2 separate regions of the Homo sapiens genome follow, and region 2 is linked to region 1. Evidence: fine-mapped expression QTL. Tissue or cell type: whole blood. Region 1 holds a variant in brackets; the other region holds the start of a gene. All regions are shown on one strand. Distances are from middle to middle.

The links. PIP is the estimated chance that this variant, and not a neighbour inherited with it, causes the effect.
Region 2: CHST11 starts here. The variant in region 1 is fine-mapped to the expression of CHST11 in whole blood (INTERVAL, PIP above 0.99).

The regions. Positions count from the first base shown.
Region 1 is chr12:104,586,179-104,588,938 of GRCh38, reverse strand. All of the region lies in intron 1 of CHST11 (carbohydrate sulfotransferase 11), which reads right to left. Among named protein-coding and RNA genes, the nearest start is that of MIR3922, 4.1 kb to the left of the region's middle. The variant A/G (reference allele first, on the strand shown) is at 1,123.
Region 2 is chr12:104,455,542-104,458,041 of GRCh38, reverse strand. It overlaps CHST11 (carbohydrate sulfotransferase 11), which reads right to left and starts at 1,094. Exons shown (of 3, transcript NM_018413.6): 1 at 513-1,094. The coding sequence starts at 630. RefSeq lists enhancers at 306-355, 1,276-1,355, 1,376-1,425 and silencers at 506-785, 826-995, 1,076-1,205.

The sequences.
Region 1 (2,760 bases):
TTCATTCATCCACTGATGGGCATTAGGGTTGCTTCCACCTTCTGGCCACCGTGACTCATGCTGCTATGAACACGGGTGTTCAGGTATCTATGCAACTCCTGGCTGCGGTTTTGCTTTTTAAGCTGTTTTGCTGGGACGTGGAGCAACACCCTGAGGCGGAGCCCAGAGGCTGCTGGTGAGCAGGTTGGCTGGTGGCCTCCAAGTTGGTGCTGTAAGGATGGCAGGTGGGCAATGGAGCATGGCTGTCATGTACAGAACTTTAGAACAGTGACCTTAGGTCAAACATCACCGGGATGGACTTCAGTCAGCTCTCACTTAACTAAGTCTTAAAGCTGTTTGTGAGCCCGAGGCAGGCAAGGAAGGAATCAAGACATAAGGAAGCCACCTGGGTGGGTCTGGTCTTTGGCGGCAAGACATTGGAATGAGCCAGTCTGTGACTCAAGTCTGGGTCATAGGCTGCAGGAACCCACTCAGAGCAGAGCTCAGTTCTGAAGAAAGCAGCTTCAGCCTTCTGAGGCTGTAACCCGAAAAGTGGCTTGAGAAGGTGACCCCAATATTGTTTGAGATGCCAAAATTGTTTTCTTAAAAACCTAGGATGATTGCAAATGAAGTGCAAAAAATGTCCAGAACTGGTAAGTACATAGACACAGAAAGTAGACCAGCAATTGCCTAAGGCCAGGGGTGGGGATGGCAAGTGACAATAAATAGACACAGAGTTTCTTTCTAGGGTGATGGAAATGTTCTAAAATTAGACTGCGGGGATGCTGTACGGCTCTATAAATATGCTAAAATTCATTGAATTCTACACTTAAAGTGGGTGAATTTTACATGTAAATAGTATTTCAATAAAACTGTTTTTAAAATAAGTATAGAGATGTTTAAGAATCAACCCATAATATTAATATTTTCAAGATTTTGGCCTCTTTGAATAGATCTACATTGCAATACAATATGAAAGACTTAATTGAACAATTTATTTGATTTGAAATTTTAAGCTGAAATCTAAGTTTATATATAATACTAGAGCATTTTAAAAAACCTAATCTCCTCCAGCCCGGGTGACAGAGTGAGACTCCATCTCAAAAAAAAAAAACAAAAAACAAAAAACAAACTTAATCTCTA[A/G]CGAATTGAAGAGTCTGAAACAATAAATAAATAAATAAATAAATAAATAAATAAATAAATCTTAAGATTCACCATATTTCTAAGTTTGAGGCATTAGATTTCTATTATGTAAATACTTGAGCCGGGCAGGATGGTGAACACATGTAATCCCAGCACTTTGGAAGGCTAAGGCGGGTGGATTGCTTGAGCCCAGGTGTTCGAGACCTGCCTGGGCAACAGGACAAAACCCCATCTCTACAAAAAATACAAACACCACCAAGGTGTGGTGGTGCACGCCTGTAGTCCCAGCCACTGGGGAGGCTGAAGTGGGAGGACAGCTTGAGCCCAGGAGGTTGAGGCTGCAGTGAGCCATGATCCTGCCACTGCACTCTAGTCTGGGCAACCGCTTGAGACCCTATCTCAAAATAAATAAACAAATGAATAAATAAATGCTTGTTCATTAATTGGGCAAATGAAGTATTCAAAAATAACTGTAAATAGATGACATTTTAGATGCAATTTAAATTGTTATCAGAAGATTAAGTGTGTTAAAGGACCAAATATTAATTAAAGGCCACCCTAAATGTATCTGTTGAAGGCTTATGAATAGAAGAGTAAGATTCGAAATTTAAAGGTAGCTTCCTAGATTTGTGAGTTTAATTTTATTAGAAGCCTTTTCTGTATACCACTGTCATCACAGTGACATGAAAAAGACCTCACATTAACAGAGAAGATAACTGATAGGAATTGGCATCTTCAGGCTGGCCTAAGGGGCGGAGGGTGTGAGTGTCTGGGGTAAAGGAGAACCAGCCCCTACCCCAAACCTCAGCATAAATTGTCCCTGAAAACCCCCACAGTAGTAGAAGAACTTTATTGCTGAGAAACTTAAGACGCTGTGGAAAAAACGCAGTTCAAGGAATTGATATTGGCAGTTAACCTGGGGAAGTCCTCATAAATTACATTTTATGTTCACTTAAATAAAACAAGAGAGACAGCACTGCAACACAGATCATATTAATTACATTTTACACACTTCAAATGAGTAATTATAAGCCTTATACGTTTACTTTGCATTTATCCTTCCTTGCCTGCTGAAGAATGTTCCCCTCTCCCTGCAGTTTCCCTGGAATGCTTATACATTTATTTTGCAGTGAGGCAGAAAACATGCCGAAGTGCTTTCTTCCCTGCCTGGCGCTCCAAGTCTGATTTTACAACCTGGACACGCTGATGTCTGCCTCTGGGGTTCCCCCATGGCTTCAGAGACAGAGTAACGTAGCTGCTGGAGAAAGGAAATAGTCCAGGTAACCTTTATTTAAGCTACTCAAGCATGGCGGGGCATTAACTCCAAACCTGCCTCCTCCCCTTGAGTCCAGAAAGCTGTTTAGTTCTGCCCAGGATAATCTCACACTCACACAGTCTTCACACAGTCTGACTGTGCCCAGCAACCCCACCTCACTCAGGCAGGCATCTCGCCCAGGGCTCCAGTCCCTCCCGGCCACACAACCTTTTAAAAGCCCAAGGGATTTTCGCCCATTCTTTGTCCATCTCAAGAGCACCTGGGCAAACCCTGAGCCTACCCAGGCTTCTGCTTTCTTTCCCTTTTCTCCACTCTTGTCCTAGAAGGCAGGAACAGGTCCTGGCTATGACCATGGTACAGTG
Region 2 (2,500 bases), 130 kb after region 1:
ACCTCGCCGGGGCGTACACCCTTCGCCCCCGGCCCGGCAACCAGGAAGAGGCGGCTCGCCCGGGCGCAGAGCAGCCGGCTCCGGGTAACTCTTTCATCCTCCGACCTCGGCAGCAGCAGGGAGGGAGTTTCGTTCTCCTCAAACCAGCCCCTCACCCCCGGTTGCTTCCCACACCTCTCCGTTTCCCTGCTACCTCGCAGACAGACAGACAAGGGACACAAAGAAAAAAAGAAGAAGAAAAAAAAAAAAAAAAAAACTACCGCCCCTCCTGGTCCCATCCTCCAGCCCGGAGCCGGTAGGAAGAAGAGGGCGAAGCACACCTTCCCTTCTCCTCCCCATCCCGACGCGGTGACCCGGGTAGATCTGGGCAGCCAGGAGCTCTGGGCAGCCAGGAGCCCCGAAGAGGCCGAAGGCGGAGAGGTAGGGTTGGAAGAGGCAGAAATCAGGCGGAGCGAGCTAGAGCGCGAGAGAGAAGAAAATATCCAACAAAACCACGCTAACGCGCCCCCTACCTGGGTGCAACATACTTTGGAAATAGAAGATGACCAGGATAAAGGATCCCAAGCAAGTGGCCAGCACCATCCGGCAGATTCTGTTCATCCTCATCACTTCCAGCAGCGCTGGCTTCATGGCTTTGTCCTGGCTGCGGGGACCGGGGTGTCCGGGAAGCGCGCCCGGGGCGCAGGAGCAGGGACCCCGCCGCGCGGACCGGAGCCCGGGAGGCGCGGGGCAGAGCTGAGCAAGGCTCAGAGGGAGGATCGGAGTCGCTTCGCGGCCGCTCTCGGAGCCCCCAGCCCGGGCAGGGGTGTGGAAGGTGCCGGAGTTGGTCTGGAAGTGCTGAGATGCGTGGACCCGCTGGCTGCGCGCTCCTGCTCCTCCTCCTCGCCGCTCCGCCGCCTCCTCCGATCCCGCCGGCGGCCGCCGCTGCCTGGTCGCGGGCCGGGCGGCTGGGGTGCGAGCGGTGATGGTGGTGCCGCCGCCGCTGCCGCTGCGCTGGCCGCTGTGGCTGTCCGACGGGCCCTCTCCCTTCTCTCCAAAGGCTACTTCATTGCGCTCCAACGATCTATATATTCCGGGGCTGGGTTTTACCAAATGCAACTCGCGGCCCCCGGCGAGGGGAGGGCGCCTGCGGAGAGCCGGGAGGAGGGAGGGACCCTAGCGCCGGGGCGGAGCGTCGCGCTCCCCCCGCCCCTACCCGGGATATGGTCGCGTCCAGCTGTTGCCCGGGGAGTGCGGTGTGCGCGCCGCGCTCCCGCAGGGTCCCAAAAGCCCTCAGTCCCCGGCCGGGCTCGGCCGCCGTCTGGAGGTTGTGTCAGCGTTTCCATGACAAAACCCGGAGGAAAAAAAGACGAAGAAAATCGCCTCGGTGCTGCCACCCACCCCCGCCAGCGTTTGGAGAGGGAAGTGGCAAGCAGCGGGCTGGGTCTCGGAGGGAAGAATTAAGGGTTAGGGGGTTTCTGGTGGCTGGCAATTATTTAAAATCCCTGGGCGACGTAGCGGGGAAGTTGCCCCAAACCCCCAGGGAGCGAGTGCCCATTTTCCGACGCTCAGAACTGGGCGGTTTCGTTTTTCTTTCAAAGGACAGCCCAGCTTGGGAGTCGGGGTTAAAGAGGGCTGACTTAAAGTCAGGGTTAAGGAAACTGCACGACCCTCGGGTCAGGCGACAGCTGAGCTTTCCCGGGGACTTATACAGACAGAATCTCTGACACCCACCATCACCACCATTCCTCAAGGCAAAAGGGATCTGTGGGTTGCAAAACTCTGCTACCCCAAAGGGTAGAGCATCCTCCAAATTATTCAAAATTAACAGCAGTCTTAGCTGGGAGGGGGTGAGAAAATGCCCCTAGGAAGCCACCTCAACCAAGTCCAGAAAACTGCTGGAAAAGCCAAGCCAGCCATAGCACTGGCAGGTACATGGAAAGATGGTGCTGCTTTCTTGTATTGTGTAGAATGACTTCCAGTTTCCAATTCCATGCATTTAGGCTGTTTCACAATCAATAAAGTGGACACAGCCAATAGTGTAGGGATCACTCGTATGTCAGGGAAAAAAAAAATGTTAGTTAGACTAACCTTTGTGCCTTATCAAGTCATTACTAATTCAATTAAAAATGAAATAAGATACTGTGTCTTTCAATGCCTCTCACAAAATAGGCATTTGATAAATTCTTATTGAATCTGAATGTAATGGGCCTTATCCTCCCCTCGATAGACAGAGACACAACTTGCAGTTAGACACATGCAACAAAAACCACCTGGGCAACCTCAGTTCCCTTCCCCCAGAGTTCTCCTCCAGCAGTTGCATGGTGGGGAAAGTAACAAACTCAGCAGCCTTGCCTTTGATTACAGAAGACAATCAAAGCACAATATTTATGTAGCCGGTGTGCGCTGTATTAATTTGGACTTACCTGTGAATAAGTTGCTTGCTCAAGGAAGCCAGGCTGAACAAGCTTCAGACAGAGTCGTTCTCCAGTGATTCTTCTGCTCTGGTGATAGGAGATCA